Homo sapiens: one gene and its partners. The protein of the gene in region 2 interacts with the protein of the main gene of each other region in a biochemical or structural test. Each region holds a gene or a part of one and is shown on either strand. Other genes may lie near its edges. The genes, in order: PLK3, VRK1 and COIL.

Evidence for each region.
Region 1: the proteins of VRK1 (region 2) and PLK3 form a complex in vitro, tested with the Homo sapiens proteins (one study listed by IntAct).
Region 3: of the proteins of VRK1 (region 2) and COIL, one has a biochemical effect on the other in vitro, tested with the Homo sapiens proteins (2 studies listed by BioGRID and IntAct, with this or other methods).

The regions. Positions count from the first base shown.
Region 1 is NC_000001.11:44,803,289-44,806,527, forward strand, and holds the end of PLK3 (serine/threonine-protein kinase PLK3), read left to right. Parts: coding exon 1-103; intron 104-311; coding exon 312-403; intron 404-642; coding exon 643-736; intron 737-874; coding exon 875-958; intron 959-1,050; coding exon 1,051-1,213; intron 1,214-1,361; coding exon 1,362-1,491; intron 1,492-1,977; coding exon 1,978-2,091; intron 2,092-2,198; coding exon 2,199-2,390; 3' UTR 2,391-2,702; downstream 2,703-3,239. Other genes in the region: DYNLT4 (dynein light chain Tctex-type 4), read right to left, coding at 2,715-3,239. UniProt on the Homo sapiens protein: Serine/threonine-protein kinase involved in cell cycle regulation, response to stress and Golgi disassembly. Polo-like kinases act by binding and phosphorylating proteins that are already phosphorylated on a specific motif recognized by the POLO box domains.
Region 2 is NC_000014.9:96,856,334-96,863,458, reverse strand, and holds part of VRK1 (serine/threonine-protein kinase VRK1), read right to left. Parts: intron 6,932-7,125; coding exon 6,873-6,931; intron 2,903-6,872; coding exon 2,724-2,902; intron 1-2,723. UniProt on the Homo sapiens protein: Serine/threonine kinase involved in the regulation of key cellular processes including the cell cycle, nuclear condensation, transcription regulation, and DNA damage response.
Region 3 is NC_000017.11:56,957,977-56,964,971, forward strand, and holds the start of COIL (coilin), read right to left. Parts: upstream 3,075-6,995; 5' UTR 3,044-3,074; coding exon 2,799-3,043; intron 1-2,798. UniProt on the Homo sapiens protein: Component of nuclear coiled bodies, also known as Cajal bodies or CBs, which are involved in the modification and assembly of nucleoplasmic snRNPs.

The DNA of each region.
Region 1 (3,239 bases), on a different chromosome or scaffold from region 2:
CCTATCAGCAGCTGCGTGACAGTCCCAGACCTGACACCCCCCAACCCAGCTAGGAGTCTGTTTGCCAAAGTTACCAAGAGCCTCTTTGGCAGAAAGAAGAAGAGTGAGTCTGGGGTGTCAGTGGGTTGAGGGGGCAGAGCAGTAGAGCGGCTTGTCACATTTGTCTTGGGTGTGTGAGTGTGGGTGCCTGGAAACTCCTGGGGAGAGCATGTGCAGTACAGGCACTTGGGGAGGCCAATCTCTGTGTCATCCCTGTCGGAAGTGGAGGGGCTGGGCAGGATACTGAGGACGGTATCACCTTTCACCCCCAGGTAAGAATCATGCCCAGGAGAGGGATGAGGTCTCCGGTTTGGTGAGCGGCCTCATGCGCACATCCGTTGGCCATCAGGATGCCAGGCCAGAGGTGAGGCGCTCAGGTGGACACTGTTCCCCTGACTCACCCCCACCCTAGCAGCTGAGGGAAGCCGGGGATAAAAGAGGCTGCTGAAGCATCCAGCCTCGTGGTGGCCTAATTGGCTGTGTGTCACCAGCCTGGCGGGGCTGACCTGGGGTGCCCTGGGAGCCAGGGCAGGGCCAGGCCATGGACTCAAGGGTTTGGATTTTGGGGCCTGTGTCACTCCCTTTCCCTGCCCAACCCTCCAGGCTCCAGCAGCTTCTGGCCCAGCCCCTGTCAGCCTGGTAGAGACAGCACCTGAAGACAGCTCACCCCGTGGGACACTGGCAAGCAGTGGAGATGGTGAGGAGCCAGGGAGGATGAGAGGTGATAGAGGTTGCTGGAGCTGAGATCAGGGGCGAGAGGGAAGGAGTGGGCAGAGGGGCCTGGCCTGGGTCCTGGGGTGCTAATTCCTAAATCTCAGTGCCCTGTCTCCTTCAGGATTTGAAGAAGGTCTGACTGTGGCCACAGTAGTGGAGTCAGCCCTTTGTGCTCTGAGAAATTGTATAGCCTTCATGCCCCCAGGTAAGGGTGGGGTCTGGTACATGCTGCTGTGGTGGGAGTTCTGTGGCTGGGAGGCCAGGAGCAGGTGCTGACTCCCTCCTCTCCCATGACAGCGGAACAGAACCCGGCCCCCCTGGCCCAGCCAGAGCCTCTGGTGTGGGTCAGCAAGTGGGTTGACTACTCCAATAAGTTCGGCTTTGGGTATCAACTGTCCAGCCGCCGTGTGGCTGTGCTCTTCAACGATGGCACACATATGGCCCTGTCGGCCAACAGAAAGTAAGTGCTGTTATGGGGTGCCTTGTATTCAGGCCACTAATCCAGCAGGGCCGCACCCTCGTGAGTGCTCCTGGGCTCAGGGGTCTGGGTTTCTCAGAGGAGGGGCATTGGTGCAGGGCTCCCTCTGACCTCTGCCTCCCCATTCTAGGACTGTGCACTACAATCCCACCAGCACAAAGCACTTCTCCTTCTCCGTGGGTGCTGTGCCCCGGGCCCTGCAGCCTCAGCTGGGTATCCTGCGGTACTTCGCCTCCTACATGGAGCAGCACCTCATGAAGGTGTGAGGGCTGGGGCTGTGGTACATTGAAACCTAACCCATCCTGGCCGGGTGCGGTGGCTCACGCCTGTAATCCCAGCACTTTGGGAGGCCGAGGCGGGTGGATTATGAGGTCAGGAGATCGAGACCATCCTGGCTAACAAGGTGAAACCCCGTCTCTACTAAAAATACAACAAATTAGCCGGGCGTGGTGGCGGGCGCCTGTAGTCCCAGCTACTCGGGAGGCTGAGGCAGGAGAATGGGCGAACCCAGGAGGCGGAGCTTGCAGTGAGCAGAGATGGCGCACCATTGCACTCCAGCCTGGGCAACAGAGCGAGACTCCATCTCAAAAAAAAAAAATAAAGAAAAGAAAACTAACCCATCCTGATCCCTCTGATTCCCCCTTGGTGGTGGTTGGGGTTGCTGAAAGCTAGAGGATAAGGCATACACTAATGGGGAGGGGGCTGTCTCACGCTGGATCAGTGACCTGCCCTGATCCTGCTCCCAGGGTGGAGATCTGCCCAGTGTGGAAGAGGTAGAGGTACCTGCTCCGCCCTTGCTGCTGCAGTGGGTCAAGACGGATCAGGCTCTCCTCATGCTGTTTAGTGATGGCACTGTCCAGGTAAGAGCCTATCCAGGAGTTGCGGGAAGGTCTGGGAGGCCCAGGGTGCTGGGGAGGAAGCTGGGCCCGGAGCCTAGGTCCTGACCACTGTCATGCTCTGTGTGCAGGTGAACTTCTACGGGGACCACACCAAGCTGATTCTCAGTGGCTGGGAGCCCCTCCTTGTGACTTTTGTGGCCCGAAATCGTAGTGCTTGTACTTACCTCGCTTCCCACCTTCGGCAGCTGGGCTGCTCTCCAGACCTGCGGCAGCGACTCCGCTATGCTCTGCGCCTGCTCCGGGACCGCAGCCCAGCCTAGGACCCAAGCCCTGAGGCCTGAGGCCTGTGCCTGTCAGGCTCTGGCCCTTGCCTTTGTGGCCTTCCCCCTTCCTTTGGTGCCTCACTGGGGGCTTTGGGCCGAATCCCCCAGGGAATCAGGGACCAGCTTTACTGGAGTTGGGGGCGGCTTGTCTTCGCTGGCTCCTACCCCATCTCCAAGATAAGCCTGAGCCTTAGCTCCCAGCTAGGGGGCGTTATTTATGGACCACTTTTATTTATTGTCAGACACTTATTTATTGGGATGTGAGCCCCAGGGGGGCCTCCTCCTAGGATAATAAACAATTTTGCAGAATTGGACTCCCCCTCACTCGCAGTAGAGCCCGTGGACCGTGGCCACCGCGAAGAGCGAGGTGTTGGTGTAGGAGACCGAGGCCAGCCCATCGCGCGCCACGTCCCAGAGCGCACGGCTGACCACGTGAACGCCCTGGCCCGCGCGCGGCCCCAGCACCACACTGCATACCAGCTTGTAGCGTGGCGGGCTGAGCTCGCGCAGGCGAACGTGCACCTGCTCGCAGAGCTCCCGCACCAGCCGCGCGGCCTCGTCGCTGGAGTAGCACGCGTCGTGCAGCCCTGCGGCCAGCGCCGCCTCCAGGGCACGCTGTGCACGCGCAGCCTCCCAGCGCTCCCCGGGCACTGGCTCCGTGCGGTAGGAGGGCGCCACCCAACGGGCGGGCGCCAGGGGCAACCCTGAGAAGCTGACCCTTGAGCCCAGAGGGGGCACCGGGCCCAGGGATGGCCGCTGACCCCCAGGACCCGCGCCTGGCCCGACCAGCGAGTTGCGGCGGGAGAAGGACGCGGCCAGGCCCAGCATGGAGCCCCGGCGCGAGGC
Region 2 (7,125 bases):
TTAAGCTGTTCTTAACCCAGATGGAACAGGAAGGAATTCTTTAAGAATGGGACCACATGTCATTGATCTCCGTAGCCCTAGAGACCTAGCCTAGATCAGGTACATAAACTAGACTTTTTATGTAATTGTTGAATGTTAATTTATGAGTATACACTGAATCCAATAACTGTTGCACTGTACTGCCAGATTCTAAAAACTGAAAATGTTTAGTTCTAATCAACAATAAAAATATTTGACTTTGTACTTTTTAAGGGCAGATGTATACTTGATCTCTCTGTTCTCCTTCAGCCTTATGTCATCCCAAAATTCTATGCTTTAAATAAAGCTCCTTGATTATTAAGCAGAAAACATTTCCAAGTGGGTAAATTCATGTTTCACTCTAGTTTCCAAATATACTGCACCATAATCAAGCATGGCTGCAAAAACATAGACAAGAAACCTTGCTTCATTCCACTGTTCATCAATTCCTGTAGGTTTTTACCAAAAAGAATATTTCTTAGGAACCTAAATACAAACATATATTAAACTGATTAAACCTACCCCTTTCCAAAAGAGATCTGAGTCTGATATATACACAGAAAATATACTTCACACTTTCAAAAATTATGACAAACGAAAAGAGAGGAAACAAATGTACTAATTATTAAAATTAACAGTTTCTAGAACTAAGCATCATATTTAGTTTTGAGCCTCCTGACATCCAGAGCAAAAAAAGACATCTGGGTTATAGATCTTGCTGAAAAACAGAGGCAGCAAGCTAGTTTCTCAAAGGAGAAAGCTTTTCATTGCAGGGAGCCCCCAACTTCTCATCCAGCAGAGCTCTGCTTTTATCTGTTTTCAGTGACAGCATTTACAAATTATATGAAGAAAATGTTCTGCAGTTTAAAAGAAAAGCTTGAAAAAAAACTGGTCTGGTCCAGTTCTTTCACTTTACAAAAAAAAAAAAAGCTAACAAAATTAATAACTCACTTCAGTTACATGGCTATCAAGCAGCTCATGATCTTACCTAACCTTAACTTTTATTAATTTCTTTTTAATACAAAGAATAACCCTGTGTCAGCAATGAGTGTACAAAAAGTAGTAAACTAATGAAATAAATCTCCTAATAGTTCAACTTGTTCAACTTAGTATTCATTTTTTTCCCCTAAATGAAGCTTTATACATGTCAGGGATGATCCAACAGGAAATTTCCAGCCTTCTGAACTATCCAAGGACACCACAGAATTATAAGGTCACAGATGTTAGCTCTGCAGCAGACTGACCTACTCAGCTGTAAAGTCAGCCAACCTGCAGAAACTACATTTTCTCCAGCATGTAAGTCCAAACAACAAAGGGATTTGCAAAGGAAGGTAGGGGCGGGGACAGGGGGATGGGGGTTGGGCGGAGGGAGGTGGTTGCTCTGGACAAGTTCTCACATAGCAGCAGAGATCTTTACTTCTCAATCACCAAAATTTTAGAGAAAAACACTATACAAGCTACCTATAAATATTAACGCAGAGAAATCTATCCTGAGCAATAAGAAACATGCTGCTTGTTTATGCATGTATGCAAAGAGTAAGTTTACTATAATACCTTACTAAAAAATTCCACTCAGGCTTCCATTTTACCCTCTTCATTTCAAACAGATACAGTTTTCAGCACACTTGTTGACCACAAAACTGGAGCAGATGCAATTAAGATAAAACTTATCAAAGAAAAAAAAGTATATGTAGATGCATGTATATAATTTCAGATTCTATGATGAAATTACAGAGACCTGCTATTTGGCAAAGTTAAATTTTTGGTCCAATTTCAAAATTCCTATCTCCTTTGTTAATTGAAAAGATAAAAACTTTTCAATGTGCTGCGTCTGATTTTAAAGAGAGAAAAATTTGTTTTAACGCTTTTTCTCAGTTTGGAATACGAGATTTCCAAATAAATCTATTAGAATTTGCAAAGTTAATGACAGTAAAAATGGTTAATAATGTAAAAAAAATTTTTCTTCTAAAAGTTGTTTTCCTTCCTCATATAAAAATAGCTAACACATTGTATTAAATAATTTCAGATTATAAGGGAAATCAGTAAGTTTATCAGTAAGTTAATTATCAAAAATAATCAATAGCAAATCAGTAAGTTAATGCATACCTGTAAAATCTAAAGTGATGCCAGAAGTTCTTTACATGCTTGTATAATACTTCTACCATAAAGTTCATTATTTAACATTTCTCTCCAAACAATTAATCCCCTTATATGCTGATATATAGCTTTATATAATATTTCTTCACAGAGCAAAATAATGTTCAAATGGTAAAATGCACCACACCAACAAACAAGGAAATTTTCAAATGGTAATTTTTCAAATGCCCGTTTTCAACTGGTAAATACTCTGACCATATCCACAAATAAGAAACAACCAAGACAAGATGAACCCTAAGTGGTGACTTGGGAGAAAAGAACATATAAATTATGAATTCAGTGCACCATCAAAATTTCCCTGTCAGATATCAGTATTCCAAGTTAAAATCAGTTCAGGAATTTAGTAACTTGCTACTAAACATAAGAAATATATAAATATTTATTTTTCTACAACCCTCTACACATTTTCTGTATTACAAAAAATGTTTGCCTTAATTGCCATGCAATCTGTTATTGTTCTTCATTGAACTACTGCTATACTTTCTTTTAGTATTTATTGCAATTATAAACACAAGAAGACCAAAGAATAATTTAATAACAAAATTCACCTTTGTTATTGTTTTTGCTTTCAAACCTCCATTCTCCACAACACTGAGGTCCAATTTGCCATCATCCTTACTTCCTATAGCTTTTAGTCCTTGCAAAAGAATGTCACGTAAATTTTCATAAAGAGGTTTTTCAGTGTAGTCTAGTAATTTCACTGTTTCCATGTATTTGGCAATTTCACCTAAAAGAATAACACAATCATTTTATAACTTTCAATATATTTCTCTCTAACCTCTAAAAAAAATAATTCATGGTTATAGTAAAGTTAGAATGCAAATACACATCTTGTTAAGATACCTATTTTTTTCAATCACTTCAATGAAAAGTATGCTTTTGAACTCAGGAATTGTCAGATAACTGAAATTTAAAAAGTATTTTGAGATACAATGTAAAACACACTTTTTGTAATTGTGAGAAACAAGACAACTTAAAATGTAAATACTCATAAAAATAACTATTATAGTATTAAAGTTATAAAAAAATACAAAGGGATCTAGAATAAAGATTAGAAAGTAAAATGTCCTTAAATACAATGAATATCATAGCCAATATGTTTTTGCCATCAAAGCCATTAGCTCTATAGCAGATAGCTATATTCTTCGTGTAAATGAGAAATAAAACACACCAAAAAGAGGCCAAAGAAAGAAGAAAGAAATAAGATCTGGCTTTCCTATAAAAGAGAAAAATCAGCTTCCAAATGATAAAAGTGTACTGTACACTTAGACAGAACCACACCATAAAAAAGAAATCCTACTAGTCAAGATCAACACTTCTCAATATTAAAAATTCATTTTTGAGCTAATGACTCACACACAGACCTTTCCCCCGACCTCCAGACTTGTATATCCATCATTTCATATACTGGTCCTTGGATGTGTAAATATCACCATTAATTCCAACAAACCCACGTCTAAACTCTTGACCTATCCCTAAAACTTGAGGTTTTCTCTGTCTCAGTTACTGAGATTTTCATCCTTCTAGCTCCTCAAGCCAAAATCTGAGTTAGTCACCCTTGAATCATTTCTTCTCACACCAGTCCTTCAAGAGATCTTATCAGTTCTACACACACACACACAAGCGTGTGCATATATACACACATTCATTAACTCAAATATTTATTAAGCACCTCCTATGTGCCAGGCACTATTCCTAAATACTTGGAATATACCAAGAAAAAAACGGACAACAATCCCTAACTTCCAATTTCTTCATCTGATAAAGGAGATGTACAAAAAACCTAAAACAAATATCACCATGTATGATAAAACATTGAAAATGCTCCCCTGGGAGAGAAAAATGTCCACTTTTGCCATATCCCTTCAGTATAACAGAATAGTTATGTGTACTTTTAGCTAGTACGATAGGAAAATAAATAGAAGGCATAAAGAGTGGAACAGAAGATGTAAACCAGTCTTTATTCACAAACAACATAATACTACATGTGGAAAATCCTACAGAATCTACAAAGAACTACTAGAACTAGTAGATACATTTAACAAGGTCGTAAAATGCAAGGTAAATATATAAAAATCTATCTTATTTCTATATACCAGCAAAAAGCAATTGGAAAATAAACTATCAAAAAATACCTAAAATAGCATTAAATACTTTGCAACAAATACAATGAAAGATGAGCAAGAGTTTCCTAGAGAAGACTATAAAACACAGTTGAGAGAAATTAAGACAGACCAAATTTAATAAAATATATACCATATAAGTGGACTGGAAGACTCAACAGTATAAAGATGTCAGTGCTCCCCAAATTGGTCTACAGAGTCAAATTCAATCCCAAGGTTCCAGCAAACTTGGAGGTGGGTGAGTGTGTGTGTAACTGACAAGGTGATTCTAAAATTTAAATAGAAATGCAAAGGGCAAAGAATAGCAAAGTAGCAAAGTCCAGTTAAAGAAAAGCAGTGCCAAAGAATTTCAACTACCAGATATCAAGCTTTAAATAAAGCTACAGTAACTAAGACAGTGTGGTCCAAGAACAGGCAAAAAGGACAATTGAAAAAAGAGAGTCCAGAAACAGGTGCACAGATCCACACATCCACACTTGACTGATGACAAACATGACAACAAAGGGAAAGAATGGTCTTTTCAAGAAAGGCTGCTGGGTCAATTAGATATAAATATGGGGATAGGAAAGATACATGACCCCTCCTCAAATAATACCCAAAAACCAACTGCAGGTAGACTATACATCTGTATGCATAATTGGCAAGCTGCAACTGCCAAAAATTGGAGACGACCTAAGAGCAGAATAAATACATAATGGTATGTAACTACAATAGAATATCATATAGAAATGACAATGAGGAAACTACTGTTAAACATACAATAATAGGGCCAAGGGCAGTGGCTGATGCCTACAATCCCAACACTTTGGGAGGCTGAGGTAGGAGGACTGCTTGAGCCCAGGAGTTCAAGACTAGCCTGGGCAATATAGTGAGACCACATGTCCACAAAAAAAAATTTTTAATTAGCCAGGTGTGGTGGCGTGTGCCTGTAGTCCCAGCTACTTCAGAGACTGAGGTGGGAAGATCTCTTGAGCTCAGGAGGTCAAGGCTTTGAGCTCAGGAGGTCAAGGCTGCAGTGAGCTGTGACTGTGCCACTGCACTCTAGCCTGGGCAACAGAGTGAGACCCTGTCTCAAAAAAACAAAACAACAACAATAACAAAAAAAAACATGCGATAATGGGGATGAATTTCACAAATACATTACTAAGTGAAAGAAAAGGACACTAACAGAAGTAAACAATAATTTCAAGAGGACAGGAATTGTTACATATTTCATTCACTGTATTAACTCCATTTCTATAAATTTTAAACACAAATATTTGGTGTTGGAAATTAAGGTAAGTGACTCATTCGGCCAGGAGGGAGAGGCTACTGATTGCTATGAGGTCCATGGGATAATTCTGAGAAACCCACATTGTATTTATTGATATGGGGAGTAGGTTGCAATTTTAAATAGCATAAGGTCAGGATAGACCTCCCTGAAAAGGAGACAACTGAGCAAAGGCTTAGAAAGACTTCTGAATATATCCAGACTGACCAATTCTCACTCTTTGGCTGCTACTTCTCTTGCATGGGTTACTGCAGTGGCCTCTTAACCTGCTTTCTGCCTAGGCCCATCCTTGCTCCTTCAGCAGTCCATCCCCATGCCAGAAGCAGGAGACCCTTCCCCTCAGGATAAGCAGTTCATGTCACTCTTCTACTACAAACCTCACACTCTTCCTTGAAGTAAAAGCCAAAGCCCTCATGTTTACCTATGAAGACACAGTCCTCGCATCTCCTGGGCACTAGTGTCCCTTCTGCCTAGAACTCTCTTCCCCAGACTTCTACACAGCTCACTCCCTCCCTCACCTCCTTCCTACAACTGCTCAAATGTCACCTTCCAAGTGAGGCTGTCCCTGGACAGCCTACTTAAAATTACAGTCCTCCTCACTACTTTACTACCCACCCCATCCCCATCCCCCTAATTCTATTCCCTGTTTTCTTCTAGTTCCACAGTACTAACCAGGGGGAACATATAAATTTTGCTCATGTGTTTACTGTCTAAAATCCTCCAACTACAATGCTAGCTTCATGAGGGCAGGGATATTTGTTTTGTTCACTGATGTACCCCCAGTCCCTGGCACACAATAAAGCCTCAATATTTACTAACTTAATGTATGAATGAAATTTGCTTCCTTTGCTAAAAGCACTGAATAATAATTGAATGAGGCTCAAGTATTCATTTAACAAACCATCTAACATATTTTTTTTTCTGAGACGGAGTCTCACTCTGTCACCCAGGCTGGTGTGCAGTGGCACAATCTCGGCTCACTGCAACCTCCGCCTCCCGGGTTCAAGCGATTCTCCTGCCTCAGCCTTCCAAGTAGCTGGGACCACAGGCGTGCGTCACCACGCCTGGCTAATTTTTTGTACTTTTAGTAGAGATGAGGCTTCACCATGTTAGCCAGGATGGTCTTGATCTCCTGACCTCGTGATCCACCCACCTCAGCCTCCCAAAGTGCTGGGATTACAGGTGTGAGCCACCATGCCTGGCCACCACCTAACATCTTACATTAAGGGCTATTCCATGGATATCATGCCTTTTTATCCCCAGAAAACAAAATCCCTATTAACACTGAAGAAGTCATTTCCTACCTGGTTTGTTTTTCTCAGGAAAACATTTGTCCATCAAACTTGCAATATTTTCTCTGTATCTGTTAAAAATTAAAGAATGAGTCACTGAAGCTTGATGTCATATGTTAATATGAAATAAAAATATATAGCACATTAAGCTATATTGTGCTACATCCTAAATATGCTTACAGACATTTTTCTAAAATAAACAAAAGACCAAGGAACCTTACTGTTTAACAAGTACTTTCTTATTTCTATATCAGTATCAGTTGAA
Region 3 (6,995 bases), on a different chromosome or scaffold from region 2:
CTCAGGATTCCCACAACCTAGTTCCACTTTTCCTCATTAGCCTTCTCAGTACTGCCAATGATCCCAACAGAATGCTTTGGCTGGTCAGACTCATCTTTTTACCAAGTCCAGCCAGCTTTTGTCTCTATAACTGTGCTTTGATCATCCAACATTTCCCACCCATTCTTCAAGGTACTGCTCAATTCCCTAACCATTTTGTTCCATGCTGATCTCCCTTTTCTCAACCAGCTTCTGCACTTACCATATAACTTGGTCTAACTATTCAGTCTAATTGTCTGTATCACAGAAGGTAATATACAAAAGCATGAGACTCATTATTTGGGTCCCAGTCCAACAATATTGGGTACTTTGAGAATAGAGACTATGTGTTCTTCCGTAGCTCTGAAGAAAAGTGAATTTGCCAGGGAAAAACAATGATTGTGGACATAAAACAACAAAAACAAAGACGAACTTTCCAGATTCATCTTTTTCTACGGTCTGCCCATTTGCCACTGAAGCCACTAGAGAGGTATTTTTTGCCACATGCAGCTGTGCATTTGAAGCATTTAGGAAAGATTTGCCTGTCATCGTGTTGTAATTATTACTTATAACAGTTTTCATGGTTTGTTTTTGTCATTGTTAACTTCATTATGAAGAATGTAATGCCCACATGATTCATTAAAGTATAATTATAGTTAGCACAAGTTATTAACTCATTAGGCAAGAGACAGTTCAGAAAGTAAACTTAATAGGATGGGACACAATCCTTAGAATTGTAACATTTAAATAATCCTTGAATTGCAGAGAGAATAGAGACCTATTTCACAGTCAATAAAAAGGGGGAAAAAAAACTCTTTGAAATTTGGATTATTTCAAATTGTCATTTGAAACAGTTGAACATTATTCAATAAATCATAATATCCTGATTTAAAGATGCAGTTACTGTTCCAAATTAAATTCCCTGATGTTCTGAAGAAATCTTACGGAATCTGACATGCTTGAGGGTAAGGAATATTCAACGACAAAGGGCAGCAAGAGAAAATAGCCTGGTTCACAACTCTGGAATTAATTCACTGTAGCTGAAGCTTAAAGGGGGTGGGGGAAGGAAGGCTGGCACAGTGGCTTACGCCTGTAATCCCAGTGCTTTGGGGGGCTGAGGTGAGAGGACAGCTTGAGCCCAGGGATTCGAGACCAGCCTGGGCAACATGGCGAAACCCTGTCTCTACAACAAATACAAAAATTAGCCAGGCGTGGTTGCCTGGCCTGAAGTCCCAACTACTCGGGAGGCTGAGGTGGGAGGATTGCCTGTGCCCAGGAAGTCAAGGTTACAGCAAGCTATGATCGTACCACTGCACTCCAGCCTGGGCATGGGAAACCCAGTCTCTTTATTTAAAAAAGAAAAAAAAAAGTCTGAATAAATCAGTCCAAGATATGAATCCAAACTGGAATGATCAGATACCATCATCTTACTGTGGCAACTCAACCACATTTCAGCAATTCACACTACAATTGCTCCTGGATACTCATCTCATTATCATTTTTTTAACTTCCAAAAGCATATTTAAGATTATTTTGTGTTTCCCAATTTACAGCCCAAAAGGACTCAAGACACTTATTTGAGAGAATCCCAAAATGTCTGGGTGAGACACAAAATGATACGCCACCAGAAGTCTCAGGGGACACTGGGCACATGAGAACTAAGGCTGGACAACAGCAGGTTATGAAGAAAACACAACGATTCCCCTTTGTCAGCTTCCTGCACCTGACCCTGAAGGCCGCCATGGGTAAGGCCGGGTCTCCGGCACATCTGCACCATGGGCACGCAACAGAGTCGCACAGTGCCTAGCTAAGCGCGGATGTGCTAAATCAAGGCTGAAAGAAAGCCTGGCCCTGCCCTTAGGCATCAGGGATTTTCCAAGTTTGATTCTCCTGTCATCAGAAGCATCCCGGGAAGGATGCTCGTTACACTGCAGATTCCAGCCAGGCGCGGAGGCTCACGCCTGTAATCCCAGCACTTTGGGAAGCCGGGAGGATCACTTAACGTCAGGAGTTCAAGACCAGCCTGGCCAACACGGTGAAACCCCGTCTCTACTAAAAATACAAACAAACAAACAAAAAATTAGCCGGGCATGGTGGCGCCCGCCTGTAAGCCCAGCTACTCGGGAGGCTGAGGTGGGAGGATCGATTGAACCCGGGAGGTGGAGGCTGCAGTGAGCTGAGATCGCGCCACTGCACTCCAGCCTGGGTGACAGAATGAGACTCAGTCTCAAAAATAAAAATAATAGGGGCAGGATGCGGTGGTGCACGCCTGCAATCCCAGCACTTTGAGAGGCCGATGCAAGCGGATCAACTGAGGTCAGGAGTTCGAGACCACCTTGACCAATATGGTGAAACCCCATCTCTACTAAAAATACAAAAATTAGCCGGGCGTGGTGGCGGACGCCTGTAGTCCCAGCTACTCGGGAGGCTGAGGCAGGAAAATTGCTTGAACCCGGGAGGTGGAGGTTGCAGTGAACCGAGATCGCGCCACTGTACTCCAGCCTGGGTGACAAAGCAGGACTCCGTCTCAAAAAAAAAAAAATAATAATAAAAAATAATAATAAAATGCAGATTCCTGAGCCCCAAAGTTGACTACACCAATCAGGATCTCCGGGGTTCGCGAACGTGCATTTTTACAGCCCCACCCCCCTCCAACCCTCGTCCCCTTCCCCATCCCCCATCCCCTCCACTACCAGGTCTAGCGGCTTCAGGCCCGGGCGTGCGCAGGCGCGTCCCCCGCCCGCCGCCCACCCGGCCGTCCCGCTCCCTGCGCCGCGCACCTGAGGCAGTCGTTGTCTCTCACAAGGCGCGCGCTCTCGGCGGGGGGCAAGAGCCCCCCCTCCAGGTAGAGGCCTAGGAAGGCCCCAGAACTGAAGCCGAAGCGCTGGCGGATGAGACTAATGAGATCTGTGACGACTCGGCATCTGTTCAAGTCGACCAGAAGCCAGAAGGCCGTACAGTGCGGGGTAGCTGGCGGCGGGTAATCAAATTGAAGCCGTAGCCTAACCGTCTCGGAAGCTGCCATCTTGCTTGGTGCTCAACGGAAGCCGAGAGATACCACGGGGCCACCGAGAGGCGTGCTCGGGCGGCTCGCCCCCGCCGGAGCCTTTGGCGTGTGCCACCTAGTGGTGAAACCTGGCTACTACAGGCTGCGTCTAGGCGAGAACTCGGAGCGTGGTTGATTTCATTCAATTTTGTTCACGGCAGGGCTGAGGAAGGGAATAAGTGAAATGCCTTTATTACATTTCTACTGGGCGCTATGTAGGGTCTCCTAATTAAGGCAACTCTCTGGATAAATAACATTTCTCCTCAGCAGTAGTCTTCTAAGATATTTGCTCATCGACGTGAAAGATTTTTATAAAACAATCCTAACACATTTCGCTGACAAAATTTTTCATCATGATGAGTTGAAAAAGATGTAAGTCCTAGTGTGTTCTCAATGTTGAAATTTTGAAATAACACTGTTAATCATTCTTCCAAATGTATCCAGTGGAATATAAATACCTTAGCCTTTTAATACCCACCACCAAACAAAAATGTCCTTGCATTTCTCACCAGATAAATAAATCAGTATTTACATTATTTCTTCTATTTTTTGAACTAGAATTTACATTTCTCCACATAATATATATTAACTCCTTTAATTTTCATAACAAAAGTTAGGAATTATGAACTGTTATCCTTATTTAGAGGATTTAAAAAAAACAAGGTTCAGAGAGTTTAAGAAGTAACTAGAGGCCAGGAGCAGTGGCTGACGCCTGTAATCCCAGCACTTTGAGAGGCCAAGGTGGGCGGATCACTTGAGACCAGGAGTCTGAGACCACCCTGGCCAAAATGGTGAAACCCCAACTCTACTAAAAATATAAAGATTAGCCGGGTGTGGTGGCATGTGCCTATAATTCCAGCTACTCGGGAGACTGAAGCAGTAGAATCGCTTGAACCCAAGAGGTGGAGGTTGCAGTGAGTCAGGATCGTGCCACTGCACTCCAGCCTGGGCAATAGAGCAAGATTCTGTCTTAAAAAAAAAAAAAGGAGTAACTTCCCCAAGTTCACTAGACTAGTTAAGTTGTAGATACCAGGGAGTCAGTAGATGAATTGAAAACAAAATTTTTTAACTGAAAGTAAGGGTTTTTGGATTTTCTTTTTTTAGAGTCTTGCTCTGTCACCTAGGCTGGAGTGCCGTGGTGCACTCTGCCTCCCGGGTTCAAGTGACTTCCCACCTCAGCCTTCCTAGTAGCTGGAACCACAGGTGTGAGCCACCAAGCCCAGCTAATTTTTGTATTTTTTGTAGAGATAGGGTTTTTCCATGGTGGCCAGGCTGGTCTCGAATTCCTGAATTCCAGCAATCTGCCTGCCTTGGCCTCCCAAAGTGGTGGGATTACAGGCATGAGCCACCACCTCCGACTAAAATCAAGTTTATTAGAGAATTAAAGGAATAAAAGAATGACTACTCCATAGACAGAGCAGCGAGCCCATACTATAAGTATACTCAGTCAAGTATACTTATAGTTACTTCTTGACTGTATGCTAAACAAAGGATGGATTATTCATGAGTTTTCTGTATCCCTAGGAAAGGGGCAGGGATTTCCCTCAGAACTGAGGGTTACTCCCCTTTTACACCATACAGGATAACTTTTGGGCATTTCCGGCTGGGCGCAGTGGCTCACCCCTGTAATCCCAGTTTCTCCACATCCTGACTACCATTTGGCATTGTCACTATTTTTTAGTCATTCTGGTAGATGTGTTGTGGTATGTTGTGGTTTTATTTATTTGTTTGTTTGTTTTGAGGCTGGGTCTCATTATGTCTCCAGTGCTGAAGTGCAGTGGCGTGATCACAAGGCTTACTGCAGCCTTCACCTCTGAAGCTCAAATGAACCTCCCACTTCAGCCTCCTGAGTGGCTGGGACTACAGGCATGCACTGCCATGCCCTGCTAAATTTTGTAATCTTTGTAGAGACGGAGTTTTGCCACATTGCCCAGACTGGTCTCAAACTCTTGGGCTCAAGCTATCCTCCCACCTCAGCCTCCCAAATATTGGGATTACAGGCATGAGCCACCATGCCCAGCCTCTTGTGGTTTTAATTTGTATTTTCTAATGGCTAATAATGTTGAACATTTTTCCTGTGTTTATGTGCTTCTTCAGTGAAATTCTCTTCAAGTCTTTTACATCTACTCTTATTAGATTGTTAAATTTTGAGAGTTCTTTATGTATTCTAGATAGTAGTACTGAGGCAGGAAAATAGGATCTGGAGGCAGGGAACATAAGGCCAATTCACACTTCAGCTGTGACAGGAAATATCCTCTTCATTTACATAGGGCATACGAGGAGTAAATGACTTTCTAACTTTACCTCATCCTCTCCATTTACATAGGACATACACCAAGAAACCAGTGGAAACCTCTGGAGGGTATTTAAGCCCCCAAAAATTCTGTAACAGGGCCCTTGAGCCCCTATGCTCGGGCCTGCTCCCACCCTGTGGAGCGTACTTTCATTTTCAGTAAATCTCTGTTTTTGTTGCTTCATTCTTTCCTTGCTTTGTTTGTGCGTTTTGTCCAATTCTCTGTTCAAGATGCCAAGAACACCCTCCACCAGTAACAGTACTTTGTCAGATATGTGGATTGCGGATTATTTTCTTTGACTCTGGAGCTTTTTTTTTTTTTTAATCATTCTCTTAATAGGGCCTATCACAGACCAAAAGTTCTAAATTGTGATGAAGTCTGGTCGATCAATTTTTTCTTCACTGCTACCTCTGCCTCCCAGGTTCAAGTGATTCTCCTGCCTCAGCTGCCCGAGTAGCTGGGGACTACAGGCACCCGCCACCACGCCTGGCTAATTTTTGTATTTTTAGTAGAGATAGGGTTTTACCATGTTAGTCAGGCTGGTCTTGAACTCCTGACCTCCGGTGATCTGCCCACCTCGGCCTCCCAAAGAGCTGGGATTACAGGCGGGAGCCTCTGTGCCCAGCCTGTTTGTTTTTTGTTCTGTTGTCCAGGCTGGAGTGCAGTGGCAAGATCATAGCTCACTGCAGCCCCTACTTTCTGGGCTCAAGCAATCCTCCCAGCTCAGCCTCCCAAAGCAGTGGAATTACTCGTGTGAGCCATAGCCTGAGTTAATTTTTGTGTAAGAGTTATATCAGCGTTCATTTTTGTTTGTTTGCTTGCCTCTTGATGTCCAATTGCTCCAGTACTATTTGTTAATAACACTATATGTCCTCCATTTTGAATCTTTTGAATGTTTGTCAGAAATCAGTTGGGCATATTTGTGTACATCTATTTCTGGATTCTCTGTTCTGTTTCATTGATCTATATGTCTTTCCCTCCACCAACACCATACAGTCTTTTTTCTTTTCTTCTTTTCTTTTTTTATTGAGAGGGAGTCTCACTCTGTTGCCCAGTCTGGAGTGCAGTGGCGTGATCTTGGCTAACTGCAACCTCTGCCTCCCAGGTTCAAGCAGTTCTCCTGCCTCAGCCTCCCGAGTAGCTGGGACTATAGGTGCGCACCACCACGCTAGACTAGTTTTTGCATTTTTAGTAGATACAGGGTTTCATAGGTGTACACCACCATGCCAGGTTAATTTTTGCATTTTTAGTAGATATAGGGTTTCACCATGTTGGCCAGGCTGGTCTGGAACTCTTGACCCCAAGTGATCCACCCGGCCTCCCAAAGTGCTGGGATTATGGGCTTAAGCCACCGCGCCTGGCCCTTGTTTTCTTTTAGAGACAGATTGCGCCCACAGTGCAGAGCAGTGGTGTGATCATAGCTCACTGTAGCCTCAGACTCCTGGGCTCAAGTGACCCTCCCAGTTCAGCTTTTCAAGTAGCTAGGACTACCATGTCCATTAATTTTTAATTTTTTTGTAGAGATAGTGTTGGACTATGTCTTCCAGACTGATCTCAATCTCCTGGCAGGTGCCACCACGCCTGGCTAATTTTTTGTATCTTTAGTAGAGACGGGGTTTCACCATGTTGGCCAGGCT